Regions from separate parts of the Homo sapiens genome. Here all the other regions are linked to region 3. Evidence: fine-mapped expression QTL. A gene starts in region 3. Each other region holds a variant in brackets. All regions are shown on one strand. Distances are from middle to middle. Region 1 holds the start of MINDY1 (MINDY lysine 48 deubiquitinase 1). Region 2 overlaps LOC124904410 (a long non-coding RNA gene). Region 3 holds the start of ADAMTSL4 (ADAMTS like 4).

Region 1 (5,533 bases), 460 kb before region 3:
CTTTTCCTGCTTCCCCAGCTGTAAATCGAGAGGAGGTGACTGATGAGAGGCCTGCAGTGGAACCAAGATCCAGAGCACAGGCGTGTTGGATCTCCTGCCTGCTCTGCCAGTTCTTTTCTTCTTCTTCTTCTTTTTGAGACGGAGTCTTGCTCCGTCTTCAGGCTGGAGTGCAGTGGCAGGATCTTGGCTCACTGCAACCTCCACCTCCCGGGTTCAAGCGATTCTCCTGCCTCAGCCTCCCGAGTAGCTGGGACTACAGGCATGTGCCACCATGCCCTGCTAATTTTTGTATTTTTAGTAGAGATGGGGTTTCACTATGTTGGCCAGGTTGGTCTTGATCTCTTGACCTTGTGATCCGCCCGCCTTGGCTTCCCAAAGTGCTGGGATTACAGGCGTCAGCCATCGCGCCCAGAGCCTGGGGCTTCTACCACACCCTCTGCACTCTACCAGGTGCACAACCCAACCAGTTTCATTTCTAGACTTAAAAATGATACAGCAAGGACTTGGAAAGGAGCTCTCTGGAGGGCTCCAGAGGGAAAAGAGCTGGGTTTGTTTGTTTGTTTTTAACATTAATTGAGTAATACATGCAAATATCGTGCTCTTTGCTCCTGCTTCTGTGGATCCAGAGCAAAGGACTGCCATACCCAGAGAGAGAGCCCAGATCCAACAAGCTGCTTCTGTCCAGCCCTTCTCCTCCCTACTTAGCAAGGGCACTTGCTCTTCCCTATTCTCACCAGAGAGGCACAAGCGCTCCGTCCCTTCTAGAGGCAGGCAGAGGGAAGAGAAAGGGTCTGTTGTTTTTCTCTCCTGTTTCTCGCTCCCTCTCTGCTGATCACAAAGCTGCTGACCGGGTCAGAAAGTCCTGATGGAAATCCACCAGCGCTGGGCAGGCCCCTCCTCCTCCAGGGAGCTTGTCCTTGCCTAATTTTTCTTCGTCCTGATGAGAACAAAAAAGAGAGAGAGAAGAAAAGAAAAACCACAAACTTCCTTTGAAAACCAGCTTGTAGTCAGGGCCCGGAGCGCATGCCATAGACTCGGCGACTCAGGAATCCTGAAGACTCTCTGAGCGACCTGGAGCACCTTGGCTGTGTCCCTGCCTGCCTTCACCCTCCTCCAGTGCCCCCAGTACTGGGCGTGAGTCCGGAAGTGGCCACAACCCAGCCTGGACCGTCGCTTATAAAGCTGTGTAAACCTGTATAAGCTCAGGCGTTGACAGCTGGAAGGCAGCTGGCACTGGCAGCCCCCTTCATTGCACCTATCTCCCCCATCTCATTGCCACGGCTGAACCCTCCTTCTCAATCTTGGAACAGCACCCCCTTCTTTAAGGTAAAAACTTTATTTTAATCATCTTCTTCACCTCTTCTCCCACCCTTCTCTATTTCCTCTCCAGCTTTGGGGAGCTGACACCTGCTGTCCTTCCACCTTTGGTCTGCAAGTCTGGATTGCTTAGAGGAGCTAAGTCAGGAGAGACATGTAAAGGGGATGCTGCTTGGTCCTCCTCCTTTTAATGAAAGCACGAAACCTTCCCCCTCTCCTTGTGAGCAAGTATACAGGGCACTGTGGCCATGGTTGACATATTCTGAGATGAAAATCTAAACTATTGATTGCACAAAGACATAGGTCAGACTAAGAAGGAGATTGGTGTGAGACAGTAAGGGAACTGTTCCTACAGAGAAGGAGTGTCTTCTTGAAGCTACATACCTGTTTTACGTGCTTCTTCCAACTTTCGGCTCTCTACTGCCATTGATTAGGGAGGAGCCAGGATTATTTTAACTCCCTCACTCACCACCATAATTCCAGCTGGAGAGAAAGTGTAGGATTTGACGAGCTAAGAAAGAGGAGGAAAAGAATGAAACTTTGATTTATCTGACTATCCTCTCCCTCATTCTTTCCTACTCTGAAATACTCCATGCCCTCCCCAGCAGGATTGGACGTTGTAGAGTAGAAAGCCTCCATTACATTTCCTGCCCCTGCCTCTTAAGACTTAGCCCATTTAGCTCTGCCCAGTTCCTCTGAGACCCCACTCCCTCAGGTGTCCACTCCTGGGTTCCTTTGGCTCACCTCTCCAGCCAGCTAGCTGCCCAACCCCCACTTCATCATTGATCATTTCTGGCACTGGAGAGAAAATATAAAAAATAAGGCCTGCTTTTCTTTTTTTTTTTTCTTTTTTTCTTTTTTTTTTTGGAGGCAAGAGTCTCACTCTTGTCACCCAGGCTGGAGTGCAGAGGCACAATCTTGGCTTACTGCAACCTCCACCTCCGGGGTTCAAGCAATTCTCCTGCCTCAGCCTCCTGAGTAGCTGGGATTACAGGTGCCCGCCACCGTGCCCGGCTAATTTTTGTATTTTTAGTAGAGATGGGGTTTCGCCATGTTAGCCAGGCCGATCTTGAGCTCCTGACCTCAGGTGATCCGCCCGCCTCGGCCTCTCAAAGTGCTGGGATACAGGTGTGAGGCACTGTGCCCGGCCAAGGCCTGCTTTTCTTCAAGCTTTTTCACTTTTCCAGGCTCTGGCATCTGCTTTGAGGTTCACCCTAAGTGTCATTTAAGGGGAGAAGGAAAGGAGAGAGAGAAAGAGAGAGAAAAAAAAGCATAAGGCCTGCAGGCAATTTTTGCTACTCTGATTCTAAATTAACAACACGTAAATGATATGCAGCTAGCATAAACATATGTGAATCAAGAGGATAATCAATTTGAGTGACTAGGCTTATTTTGTTTCAGTAACTTTAATGTTCCTCAACCTCATCTCCCAGGCCTTCCCCTAGCCCCAAATTCCTGTAGGTTTACAAGAAGGAAGCAGTCTCAGGCTGGGAGGAGGGTGGAGAAAAGACAAGATTTCTAACTAGTTTAATTTATTTTATTTTATTTTATTTTATTTTATTTTATTTTATTTTATTTTATTTT[ATTTTT/T]GAGATGGAGTTTCGCTCTGTCACCCAGGCTGTAGTGCAGTGTCACCATCTCAGCTCACTGCAACCCCCTGCCTCCCAGGTTCAAGCAATTCTCCCACCTCAGCCTCCCGAGCAGCTGTGACTACAGGCACGTGCCAACACACCTGGCTAATTTTTGTACTTTCAATACAGACAGCGTTTTGCCATGTTAGCCAGGATGGTCTCGATCTCCTGACCTCAAGTAATCTGCCCGCCTCAGCCTCTCAAAGTGCTGGGATTACAGGCGTGAGCCACCGCGCCTGGCCCCTAACTAGTTTAATTTCTCCCTGTTTCTCTCCCTGATAAAGAGTGGGAGGGGAGCAAGGAGATTGAAGGGAGATGTTTTCCAAAGGGCAGGATTTGTGGTTTTTTATTATTTATACCCACAGTATTAGTTAAATGTCTATCTGTGCTTGCCTCAATGTGCCTCCAGTGCTGATAGAGAACAGGTTAAACAGGTCCGGTGTTCACATCTAAAATGACCTGGAGAGGACTGGGCACGGTGGCTCATGCCTGTAATCCCAGCACTTTGGGAGGCCAAGGTGGGAGGATCACCTGAGGTCGGAAGTTCAAGACCAGCCTGACCAACATGGAGAAACTCCATCTCTACTAAAAAATACAAAATTAGCTGGGCATGGTGTTGCATGCCTGTAATCCCAGCTACTCGGGAGGCTGAGGCAGGAGAATCACTTGAACCCAGGAGGCAGAGGTTGCAGTGAGCCGAGGTCGCACCATTGCACTCCAACCTAGGCAACAAGAGCAAAACTCTGTCTCAAAAAAATAAAAATAAATAAATAAAACCACTTGGATGGGAATAGACATAAAACTTTAGGTAGGTGAATGTACAGGAAGTATTGTTATGTAAATTAATAATCAGCATTTTCATATTTCATAGAAATAGCAGGCAAGAGAGTACCTCTGGGTTTAGGTAGTTTCTGGGGAAAAAAAATGAACTGAGGAAAAGTTGCTGTCTCAATGCTAGCTGTCAAGAGATGCTTACTGGGTCCAGGCACCGTGGCTCATGCCTGTAATCCCAGTCCTTTGGCAGGCTGAGGAGGGCGGATTGCTTGGGCCCCCAGGAGTTAAGACCAGCCTAGGCAACAAAGCAAGACCCTGTCTCAGTTTAATTAAAAGAAATTTGATATCTTTATTAATTTTTTTTAAAGAGAAGCTTACTGGAAGAACTTGTGGGGAGTGCTTTTTGTGCCCCTAATCTGAAGTTATTTATCAAAACCAGTCTCTGATTCCAGCCCCCACCACCTACATTTCCCCTCCCAGCTTACAGGAAACCCCTCCCAAGGCCTTTATACTGTGGTTTGGGATTGTGTAAGGTTCAGTAGAGCCCTTTGAGGTGGAAGACTTCCCCTTCCTCACCAGCATTTCACCTTTAGGGGCATGAAACTGACTCTCTGTGCCTCCTCCATTCTTCACCCCAAGTACTATGTGACTTAATCTTTTTATCCTTGGGTGAGGCAGAGAGAAGGTATCCCTAAACATACAAGCACTGTGTATTCTTAGTATGTTGTGTGAAGGGGCAGGGTGTGGGGTAGGGCAGAGGAATTATCTCTGTCATGGCTATGAGGGGGTTACTGATGTGATGCCTATTAGAGTAAGCTAAAGATCATCATATTAATAACCATTAGCGTAGATTTAACATTTCTTTCTCCACCTCTTATCCTTCTTTCTCCTTTGTGCTCTCCCTTTCTCTCTGTCTTTCCTCCCTTCCCTGTCATGATCTGTTTCAGGGAAGCTGACTCCACCCATGTGTTCAATCCCACCAGTCTTCCCTCCCAAGTCTGGAAGCCCCACGACCTCTTGGTCTCATCTGGTCACAGCAAGTTAGAGGTGGAAAGAGCTCAGCACGGGGCCCTTCTGTTTACACATATACTGCCCATAGCCAGGAGTTACTGCACAAACACTAGCCAGCCTTCTACACTACATTCCTTTTCCAAGACTTTTCTGGGTTAGTTTGCTTTCCAGCCCACTGATTTCCTTCTTATTGGACAGGTCACTCTTTTGCATCCCAAGCCTGGCTTAGGCAAGTCCCTGAGGTTAGTAAACACCTTCAGTGCCCCTCAGCCAAGTCCCTTTTGACCATGGAATACCATCAGCCTGAGGATCCAGCCCCTGGTAAGGCCGGGACTGCAGAAGCAGTCATCCCTGAAAACCATGAGGTTCTGGCAGGCCCAGATGAGCACCCTCAGGACACAGATGCAAGAGATGCTGATGGGGAGGCTAGAGAACGGGAGCCAGCAGACCAAGCTTTGCTGCCTAGCCAGTGTGGGGACAACCTTGAGTCCCCTCTGCCTGAAGCTAGCTCAGCTCCACCGGGGCCAACCCTTGGGACACTGCCTGAAGTAGAGACAATAAGGGCATGCTCCATGCCCCAGGAGCTTCCTCAGTCCCCCAGGACCCGACAGCCTGAGCCAGATTTCTACTGTGTCAAGTGGATCCCTTGGAAAGGAGAACAGACACCCATCATCACCCAGAGCACTAACGGCCCTTGCCCTCTCCTTGCCATCATGAACATCCTCTTTCTTCAGTGGAAGGTAAGAGAACATGCAGTTAGGGGTGCAAAAAATATCAGGGAGTACTCTTCCCTGACTTAC
Region 2 (5,533 bases), 960 kb after region 3:
TGATTTTTTTGGCATAAAAATTAGTGGTTTCTATTAAAATCAGCAGTGTAATTCACAATCGCTAAGACATGGAATCAACCTAGGTGCCCATCAACTGTGGCTTGGATAAAGAAAATATGGTACATATATGTCATGGAATACTTTGCAGCCATAAAAAAGAATAAAATCATGTCCTTTACAGCAACATGGATGCAACTCGATGCCATTATGCTAAGCGAATTAACACAGGAATAGAAAACCAAATACCACATATTCTCACTTATAAGCAGGAGCTAAACATTGAGTACACGTGGACACAAAGATGGGAACAATAGAAACTGGGGACTACTCGAGGGTAGAAGGAGGGAGGGGGTAAAGGTTGAAAAACAACTACTATGTCTAGTACCTGAGTGATCGGATCAATCATGCCGCAAACCTCAGCATTACACAACATACCCATGTAACAAACCTGCACATGTACCCACTGTATCTAAAATCAAAAGTTGAAATTATAAAAAATAAAAAAATAAAATCAACAATGTATATTTCTCTCACACAGCCATCACGATGATGTATTTGGAATAAGATATGCATAAGTATGTTCGTTGCAGTGTTGTCTGCAAGGACAAAGTGAAAACAATCTGAATAACCAACAATATGACACAGAGTAAGTAATTATTGGTACGTCTGTACAATGCCTCATGCAATCACCACTGACAGCGTGGGAAAGAGAGACATCTATTATGAAAAGACCACTAAGACATATGATTACATGATAAGTGCAAGGTTCATGAATAAATAGCATGTATACTAGTATAGCATACTTCTTTCTAAGAAAGAAACCATAACACATACAAGAATGGACAAGAAGTTATTAACAATAGCTAACTTTGGTGATAAGACTGTAGGTTGTAAAAAGCCAGACTTTCATTTCTCATTTTAAACCCAATGAATTATTTAAATCTAACCCTACTGCATTCATTATCTTTATAATAAAATAAATATGTATAACAATGAAACATAGTTTTTAAGTATTTGGGACATAAATTAAACATTAATAGATTACACCTCTTAAACTTGGTACTTTAGTATCCCATCTCTCTGTGAGAACTCTGAAAGCTTCATCTTCCACAGTTTAGGTAATTCTTTGGTGTCTTATTTTGTTATTTTCTTGCCCTGAGATTAGCAATGTCAGATCTCCAAACTGCTAACTCTTCTCTTTGGCAGATCAAATGCTTCTTCTTAAAAAAATTAAGTTTTTAAAATGTATTTCATAGGATTTTTGTTCTCTCTCTCCCTCTTTTTGTGCATATGTGTGTGTGTCTGATTAGTCTTTATTATCTTAAAATGGTTAGTCCTGATAGACCTGTTTCTTCAAAATTTCTCTCAGTTCTTTGGCAGTTTGCTCTTAGCTTATAATTAAAGATCAATTTCTGACTTGTCTTGTTCTAGAAAACCTCAATGGAAATTACAGCAAGCTGAATAGGATATTAATTAAAAACATAAACCTGGTGAAACCCGAACATAGAGGCTCCAGTTCAAAGATGCTTCCAATAGTTGACATGGCCCTTCATTCCTTAAAACCAGCTATTTTTCTTTCGAATTACATTACCTTTAATTCTGTAAATTGGATGTTATATAGTACCATGAAAACTGCTGTGAGTAATTATAATACTCATTGCTGAGTGATGTGACTTCTTTCTCAAGGCTATTTCTGAGGGAAATTGTACAATTAGATCTTTAGGTATTGTGACTTGTTTTGGAAATCATGGTGGCCCTCCAGGGAGCTAATGAATCTTTAATTATTTAGAGGTTCACATGAGACCCCTTACAGATATAAGCACATTAGCTCTGTAGCTAAGGGAACATTTAAAAACAGTAACATGAAATGTGTCAGACATAGAGGAAAGATGAAGAAGCAAGTAGAAGCTAATGCAAACAGAGGAACTGCCAGCTCTCTGTGGCACTCTAGCTCTCTCTGTCAGTATTTGGTTGGCAATGTAGACATAGTGGATGAGTGCAATTACATATGTTAGGCTCATTCTGAAATGCAGGAGCATTTTAGATTTTCATGTAGAAGCCTGACAAGCAAACTACATCTAGGATATACTTTGATAACTTTGAGTTGAGAGCCAAATTTTTTGAAGGTAAACCATCTCCCTGTTTTAAAGTAGTGTTTAAAATTATAAAAATTTTAATACATCTGTAATATAAAATATTTAGCTATAAATACTACAAGTGCAAATGAATCTTTTTTTCTACTTCTGCATTCAACTTTTCTCTTCTCCCTTTAGGGAAAACACTTTTGTGTAAAGGCCTCCAAAATATATGTAGAGGCGTATGTATGTTAAAAACATGTATACATATAATGCATAACCAAACAAATGAAATATCCTAAACATATGGACCTGAAAATTGCTTATAATAAATTTGAACTGAACATATAGGCATAAATGTGGTTCAGAAGTGTCCAGTTGAAGCAACTTCACTTTGTTAGGTCAACAAAAGTTGGGGACACCAAGATCTACTCCTCTGATTTTGTTCTAGCATTATCTTAATGGAAATGTTTACTGAAATGGAAATACATGTAGTGGACATCGTGGTGGTGTCTCAAGCATTCAGTGTTCCCTGCTCTCACACACTCCTAACCAAATAATGAATTTCTCAGCTTCACAATGTTTAAGTGACATGAGTCCCATGCCCAATTCTTGGTCATTGTAATTGGTGCATGAAGGAACCTGTGCCTTCTG[C/T]TAATCAAATCAGAATGAAGTACAACTTTTTCATTCCATGATTGAAGGGGTAAATGCCTTCTTTCCAAATGCAGCAGAGGAAGCACGAGGTACTAGGATTGGAAGTTGTCTACTCATGACATGATATTTTAAGCCATAGAATAAAACTGAGACCTAATGTCTTAGTCCTTTCAGGTCGCTATACCAGAATATCACAGCCTGGATGGTTTATGAACAACATAAATTTATTTCTTACAGTTCTAGAGGCCAGGAAGTCCAAGATCAAGGTGTCAACAGATTCAGGGTCTAATGAGGATTTGTTTCCTGGTTCACAGACAGCTGTCTTTTTGCTGTGTCCTCACATGGTGGAAGGGGCTAGGAAGTTCTCTAAGGTCTCTTTTATAAGGGCACTAATCCCATTCATGAGGGCTCTGTCCTCATGACCTAATCACCCCCCGAAGACCCACTGCCAAATATCATCACACTAGGGATTAGATTTAAACATACAAATTTTGGGGGACTACAAACATTCAATCTATATCACTTAAGGTAGAGTGAAGAAACAGGGAGGACAAGAAGCATTTATTTTGTGTCATTATTAAACTTCTGCATTAAACTATCTTGAGCCTATACTATTGTTCAAAATCTCTTTATTATACAAGCCATTTTGAATTTTGATTGTTTGCAACCAAAATTAACCTAATAAGTTAAAATGTACTATAATGTTACATCATAATTTGTCTGTACTAGTAGTATTTGCTAGAGTGTTTAGGGGAATACTTGCTTGTTAACTTTTTAGTAAATATAACACTCCATGTTCAAATACATTTGGGAAATGCTGAGCATTTCACACTTTTAGAGACTCAAAACAGGCAGCACATTTTTAAAAAATAAAAATAAAACCAAATAGCATTGCATTTGGAGAATGGTACAAAAAAAGAGAATTTGATAAACCGGAGTTATCAGAACTCAGTGGATACTATGTGTTAGACATTATTATAAGCCATTAAACATTTTACAAGCTTGATACCTGAGTTAAAAATTAATAACCCAAAGACACATTGGAAGAGAAAAGTTGACATATTTTTATTATATTAATGACCTAAAAATATCATAGCAACTAACGTCATTATAGTCAACAAGTGAATGAACGTAAATAATATTAAATAACTATTAGAAAGTCTCTCTGATTAAGCATGGAAATAAATAGGCAGTGCTTTTGACCAATAAATGGAGGACTTACAATATTTTCCAATACAAAACAAAAACATTCTAAATGTGAAGGTATTAGGCCCAAAATATGTTAGTCAATTCATGACAGCAGAAATTCAGCAGGTCATATTTTTGGGGTAATGTAAATGACAATAGAAATCATGGACTAAAGTGTAACAAATAAGTAATATCTAGGCAGGTGGAAATTTTAAGATCTTTTAAATTAACTTCTGGACTATAGCAAAAATTCAAACTAAAATTCATCAGGGAGTCAGGGAAGGTCAAATGAAGAAGCATGGGGATTGAGGCAAAAACCCTGAATTATACCAATATTATCTTTTTTTTTTTTTTTTTTGAGACAGGATCTTGCTCTGTTACCCAGGCTGGAGTGCAGTGGTGCAATCATAGTTCACTGCAACCGCAACCTCCTAGGCTCAAGGGATCCTCCCACCTCAGCCTCTTGAGTATCTGGGACTACAGACCCTCATCACCAAAACACCCATCTAATTTATTTATTTTTTGTAAAGATGAGGTCTCACTTTGTTGCTCAGGCTGACAAGTATTATCTTAATGTTATAGAAAAAAAGTAATTCTGGCCATATATAGGTATTATTCTTTGCAGTGGAATATCATTTCAGAAATTTGTGCCAAACATAAAATTAGTTTTCTAGTAGTAAAAAGTAATTAAACTCTTTAAATTATTATTACCCCTAGTATACTGGGGAATGGGTGTGTGTTCCAAATGAAAAAACTTGGGATGTCTAATGAGATGCTGTTTTCTGTCGCAGAAAATCTATGTAAAATGTTTTTTCTCACGTGTACACTGTTGATATTTGAGACAGCACATGTTAACACTTCAAGAAGTAAAATAAATGTGTTGATTATATCCACAGTTTTCATATTTATTAACTACATATTTCATTTTTAATGTAATGCCTGTTGAAAAACCTGTAAATAGTTGTTTCTTAAAATTGACATATACTGCCTAAGATTTTTCTGTATATTTTCATATTTCAATTTTCCTGTGAGGTTAGAATGAACACTTTTAGCTAAGACATTTGGGCCTCCAAATCCTAAACCTTTCAGAATGTTAGTTTATTATTTGGTTTTTACCTAAATTATTTTCTGCTTATTCAAGAACCTTAGGTCTATCCAGTTACATTTTTATTTTTTTATTTTTATTTTTTTATTTTGAAACAAAGTCTCACTCTGTTGCCAAAGCTGGAGTGCATTGGCATGATCTCGGCTCACTGCAACCTCTGCCTCCCAGGTTCAAGTGATTCTCCTGCCTCAACCTCCCCAGTAGCTGGGATTACAGGGGCATACCACCACACCCAGCTAATTTTTGCATTTTTAGTAGAGATGGGGTTTCACCATGCTGGCCAGGCTGGTCTCAAACTCCTGACTTCAGGTGATCTGCCCACCTCAGGATCCCAAAGTGCTGGGATTATAGGCGTGAGCCACCATGCCTGGCTGTATCCAGTTACATTTTTAAGACCAGCCAGGCTTAATATATATTTGGTCTTTAGCTCAATTCAATTTGTTGCATTTTGTCCATTGTACTTCATGTGACACAGAATATATCTTAATTTAAAAAGACATATGTTTGTTGA
Region 3 (5,533 bases):
ACACTGCCCTCCGCCCCCAGCCGGCTCCCATATCCTGACTACCAACTTCTCAGAAAGCAGAAGTTACTCATCACTTCCCCTGCCCCTCCCAGTGGTCCCCTTTCCCTCACTTCCAGACACAGAGCCATCCCAGCACCTCCCCTTTTCCTCCCCCCCAACCCGTGGCCCCTTCTCTCACCTGCCAGTCCAGTTCTCCATCGCTCCCCCTCTACTGCCCCAGGGGGAGGCAGGAGCGGACTGGTCACAAAAACTACGCAGGCATCTGGGCGTGGAGGGTGCTCTCTGCAGGGACAGAAGCCTGGTGGTTACCTCTCCAGTGTCCAGAGAGCTTGGGGCTGGGAGGACAGCTCAGAGAATATGGAGGAGGGGGTGAAACTGGTCCATCCCTTTAGGATCCTCAGGGTGGGAGCAGGGAGGATCACTGCCTTGTCCATCTGTAGAGGCTACATGGTCAGGGGCTGACCTCAGCCCTCCAACTAAGGCTCAGTCCCCACCTCTGGGCCCTGTAGGGGCTTCTTAGCTCCTCCCCAAATCCTACCTAGGGACTGTTTCTAAGCCGGCTCAGGCACACACAAAAGGCTTTTTTTTTTTTTTTGAGATGGAGATCTCACTCTGTCATCCAGGCTGGAGGGCAGTGGTGCCACCAAAGCTCATTGCAGCCTCAAACTCACAGGCTCTCCTTCCTCAGCCTCCTGAGTAGGTGGGACTACATGCGTGCACCACCACACCCAGCTAATTTTGGTATTTTTTGGTGGAGATGGGATCCAGCTAAATTGCACAGGCTGGTCTTGAACTCCAGGCCTCAAGCGCTTCTCCTGCCTTGGCCTCCCAAAGTGCTGGGATGACAGGTGTGAGCCACCGCACCCAGCCAGAGGGCTCCTTCTAAAATGGTTGTCATCTGCTCCCACTCCTGCCCTCCCAGAGGTGCCTAGAAAGTAGAGGAGGAAGGCTCCACTGAGGATGCGCCAGACACTCTCTCTGAGGACCCACCAGAAGCCCCTTCCTTGGGTCTTCCAGACACAAGACCTTCCCCAGTCATCTCTCTGTCCTACTTGCCTCCCGGCTTTCTCTTCCCTTCTTAGATAAGCTCTTTAGGGAACATCCAGGCACATCTCATACACTTTTTGGCCAAGGGATAAGCTAAATGGGTTGACGGTTTAATCTCTAGAGAAGAAGCCGGCAATGTAACACCCACTCTGGGTGCCAGCATCTGGAGTTGGTTCAGTGAGGGCTTGTTTCCTGTGCGTCTCTACCAGCTGGGGAAGCGGGAAGGAGAGGTGCAGCCGGGGCTGCCTCATGCCCCAGCCACAGGCCTCTCATTCTGAAGAGCCGGGAAGTCCATCTGAAGTTCAGCTTTGAACACTGGAGAAGTGAGGCTTGGAAGCCACCCCAGCCACCAAGCCTGACTCTCTTTGCCCCCTTCTTCTCACTTTGAGTCCTTCCCACCCCTGCTCCTCATCCCACTCTTAGTTCTGCTTTCCAGGAAAAAAAAAATCTGTTTCTGTTGGATCTGAAAGGCACCCGGGAGAGGAATCCAGGGAGCCCTCGCATTGCTGAGGTGGGCCAGCTCTGGGGCAGAAAATGACCAAGAGAAGGGTAGGAATGTGCCTGGGGGCAGACACTCAGCCCCACTGCCCTCCCTGAGACCTAGGGTTCGGAATTTGAGGGAGGGGTCAGAGTGGCTGAGCCAGAGCGGGCGCCTCAGGGATTGGGGTTGGGGTGGGGGTTGCCGATGGCCACTCCTTCCCCTGGCTGGGCCGGCCACTAAGGTCAGCAACTCCACCCTGACTGAACGGGGGAGGCCAGGATCTCCAGAGAAGGGCCCATGTTCCACCCAAGTCTTCAGGCTCTGCCTGACTCTTGTTACTCCAGCTGAGGGAAGAAGAAATGGGGTGATAGTCACTGCCTGCCCCTTCTCTGATGCCGACCCCTCTTCATGCCCTCTCTGCCTCTGCTTCTCTCTGCCACCGAGATCTCTTCTCGCAGCCCCTCTCCACGGGTCTACCCAGTACACATAATCCCATCCCGAGCTGGGTTTGGCTTTGGCAGTTCCCTGGAGAAGTGAGGGGTGGGGGTGACGTGAGCTCCCGGGGCCCGGGCCAGGCCTGGCTCCCTCTCTGGAAAAGTCCCACCCCACCCTCCCCTGCGCAGCCCGGCAGGGGCCCATGCCCCCTCCTCTGCAGAAACACACGCACATTTATGCTTCTCACCCCTTTCCATGTCCCTCATTTGGTGTCGTTCCCGGCCCAGGACGAGGAAAGGAGAGGTCAGAGGTGGTCACTCTGGTGCCAGAGTAGACCCTGGTCTGGACAAACGCGGGCTCCTCCTGGCCACACCTCTCCACACTGCCCAGTGAAGACCAAGGAACAGAGACCTGCGCAGGGCTCACCCCTTCACCCCCAGGTCTCCCTGCTGGAGAGTGGTTGGACCCTGTGTTTCTGGGCCTAGCCATGGAGAATCCCTGTCCTGAGTCCGAATTCCCGGGCCCTCAGAGCCCTCCACTCCTGGGTCTGGCAGGCCACCCCAACAGGTGTCTTTCTTTTTTGTCAACCTCTTCTGCCATCGGGCTGAGCTGGATCAAGGGCACCCACCTGCGTCCCTCGCGGCGACCCTGTCCTCCAAGTTCAGGAGTGCAGTGGGGGACACACCGTCCGAGAGCACCCTCCTAGAGAGAGGGCAGGAGGCACCGGCCGCGCGGGGAGGTCATGGGTCTGTTTTCCAACTTTACTATGTGACTTAGGAGGAATTTTGGTTCACTCCCCGCCCGGGTGATGGGGCCAGAGTTCCACGGGATCAGACTCCCTCCCCAGGAATTCGACCCCAGGGGCTGGAAGATTGTCCGAGGCCACCGGAGCTGGGTCCGGGGTCGTGGCGGGGTCGCGACCGCACAGCGCAGGGAGAGGGGACGACGCGGGCGCGCGGGGCGGGCGGTCTAACGGGACCCGGGAGAGGGGCGGCCGGGGCCGGGGTCCCGGGGAGGTCTCTACCTGCTCTGCGAGCCCCCGGTGGCCCGTTAACCCTTCTGCGCCCAGGCGCTCTCTCCAGGCAACCTCGCTCCGCGGCGGCCACTGGGGCCCCTGAGCCGCGCTCCGGTCACGGCCGCCTCGGCCGCAACTCCGCCCTCGCGCCCGCCCCCGCCCAGCCCCGCCCGCCACGCGCCCCAGCCCGCGCCCCTCGGCGGCCCCGGGGTGGGGCCGGTCTGCCTCGCAGCCCCACTCGCCAGGACCACCCACCCCGGGCTGCGCGCCGGGCGCCCCCCGACGGCTGCGTGAGCTGAAGCCCGGGCTGGCCCAGCCGGGGTCGGAGGCTGCAGTCGCTCCCGGGCGCTGTCCTCGTGCCCGGCCGAGACTAGGGACTTAAGCAGCCCGGGCTGGCCCAGCCGGGGTCAGAGGCTGCAGTCGCTCCCGGGCGCTGTCCTCGTGCCCGGCTGAGACTAGGGACTTAAGCAACCCGGGCCTCCGAGCCGCTCGGGTGAGCGGTGCGAACACGGCGCGGCGCGGCGCGGCACAGGCGGGGCAGCCTCCAGGGGCGCCTGGAGCGAGGCGGCCTGGGAGAGCCGCTGGTCCGGGAGGGAAGCGCCCTGGACGGAGGTACCCGCGGCCCCCGATCCGCGTGGGTCCAGGCTCTCCCCTCCACGCAGCCTCCCCTGCAAACTCAGTCACTCCTGCCTCTCCCGTGTTGGGCAGTGGTGGTTCAGATTGCTGGGACTTCTATGAGCTTCGGTTTTTTTCCTCAGTAAGGTTTTACACTCGGGACTCAGCGAAAGGACAGCGTGCTGACTTCTGAGTCAGACTGATCTGGATTTGAACCTCAGCTCCAGCTCTTGCCAGCTATGTGGTCTTCGACGAATACTTCCACCCCTGTGTGGTGCAGTTTGCTCATCTGCAAAATGGGACTAATCTAATATATATGATGGGCTTGGATATGTCTCTTTATGCATTTATACATGGAAGAATGCACCCCAAACTCAGTAGTATTGGTGACATCTGGGGAGGGATGCAGGGTTGGGGGAGGACTGAAAAAGGCTTTTGCTTTTTACTCTGCGTTATGTTTATTATTATTATATTATTATTTATTTATTTTTTTTGAGACGGAGTCTCACTCTGTCGTCCAGGCTGGAGTGCAGTGGTGCTATCTTGGCTCACTGCAAGCTCCGCCTCCCAGGTTCACGCCATTCTCCTGCCCTAGCCTCCTGAGTAGCTGGGACTACAGGCGTCTGCCACCACGCCCGGCTAATTTTTTGTATTTTTAGTAGAGACGGGGTTTCATCGTGTTAGCCAGAATGGTCTCGATCTCCTGACCTCGTGATCCGTCCGCCTCGGCCTCCCAAAGTGCTGGGATTACAGGCGTGAGCCACCGCACCCAGCTATGTAATGTTATTTTTGTGAATTTTTTTAACCACAAGAGCAATCCATCTATTAGTTTTATCTTTTTTTTTTCTTTTTTTTTTTGAGATGGAGTTTCACTCTTGTTGCCCAGGCTGGAGTGCAGTGGCGCGATCTCGGCTCACTGCAACCTCCGCCTCCCAGGTTCAAGTGATTCTCCTGCCTCAGCCTCCCAAGTAGCTGGGATTAGAGGCATGCGCCACCATGCCTGGCTTATTTTATATTTTTTAGTAGAGACGGGATTTCTCCATGTTAGTCAGGCTAGCCTCCAACTCCCGACCTCAAGTGATCCTCCTGCCTCGGCCTCCCAAAGTTCTGGGATTATAGGCGTGAGCCACCGCGCCTGGCTATTATTTATTATAAATAATATATGTAAGCTGGGCATGGTGGTGAAAGCCTGTAGTCCTAGCTACTCAGGAGGCTGAGCGGGGAGGATTGCTTGAGCCCAGGAGTTTGAGGCTGCAGTGAACTATGATCGTGCCACTGCACTCCAGCCCCTGCGACAGAGAGAGACCTCGTCTCAAAAAATAAACACATAAATAAATAAAATATGTAAAATGGCTGGCATAGAGTAGACAATAAATGGTCACTGCTATTTTTATATTTTACTTTTTTTTTTTTGAGAAGGAGTCTTGTCCTGTCACCCAGGCTGGAGTGCAATGGCGCCATCTCAGCTCACTGCAACCTCTGCCTCCTGGGTTCAAGCCATTCTCCTGCCTCAGCCTCCTGAGTAGGTGGGATTGCAGGCACGAGCCACCACGCCTGGCTAATTTTTTGTATCTTTAGTAGAGATGGGGTTTCACCATGTTGGCCAGGCTGGTCTCGAACTCCTGACCTCATGATCCGTCCGCCTCAGCCTCCCAAAGTGCTGGGATTACAGACATGAGCCACTGCTCCCGGCCTATATTTTTACTTTCTATTTACTGACGCGTTGTATTTTGTTGGGTCTACTCAGTGTTTTAAAGGTTTTTGTTTGTTTGTTTTTTGTTTTTAAGACAGGCTAGTTTCAAACTCCTGGGCTCAAGAAATCCTCCTTCCTTGGGCTCCTAAAATGCCGGGATTACATGTGTGAGCCACTGGGCCCAACCTAAAGGCACATTTTTTTTTTTTAAATAACTTGTCAATACGTATTTTAAAACCTGGATATT

Evidence for each region. PIP is the estimated chance that this variant, and not a neighbour inherited with it, causes the effect.
Region 1: its variant is fine-mapped to the expression of ADAMTSL4 in whole blood (INTERVAL, PIP above 0.99).
Region 2: its variant is fine-mapped to the expression of ADAMTSL4 in cerebellum (GTEx, PIP 0.95).

The regions. Positions count from the first base shown.
Region 1 is chr1:151,002,105-151,007,637 of GRCh38, reverse strand. It overlaps MINDY1 (MINDY lysine 48 deubiquitinase 1), which reads left to right and starts at 736. Exons shown (of 10, transcript NM_001376665.1): 1 at 736-1,326; 2 at 4,932-5,473. The coding sequence starts at 5,021. RefSeq lists enhancers at 831-1,010, 1,241-1,500. The variant ATTTTT/T (reference allele first, on the strand shown) is at 2,902.
Region 2 is chr1:149,586,074-149,591,606 of GRCh38, reverse strand. The region is part of intron 1 of LOC124904410 (a long non-coding RNA gene); the gene reads right to left. Among named protein-coding and RNA genes, the nearest start is that of PPIAL4C, 5.0 kb to the right of the region's middle. The variant C/T (reference allele first, on the strand shown) is at 2,730.
Region 3 is chr1:150,546,954-150,552,486 of GRCh38, reverse strand. It overlaps ADAMTSL4 (ADAMTS like 4), which reads right to left and starts at 3,079. Exons shown (of 19, transcript NM_019032.6): 1 at 2,988-3,079; 2 at 2,592-2,665; 3 at 179-282. The coding sequence starts at 198. LOC124904417 reads right to left here and starts at 2,197. Exons shown (of 1, transcript XM_047438226.1): 1 at 1,137-2,197. The coding sequence starts at 2,197. The coding sequence ends at 1,427. It overlaps ADAMTSL4-AS2 (ADAMTSL4 antisense RNA 2), which reads left to right. Exons shown (of 6, transcript NR_187269.1): 6 at 3,737-3,923. It overlaps MIR4257 (microRNA 4257), which reads right to left and starts at 558; the gene lies at 473-558. RefSeq lists enhancers at 1-694, 1,184-1,873 and silencers at 3,209-3,348, 3,519-3,668, 3,600-3,894.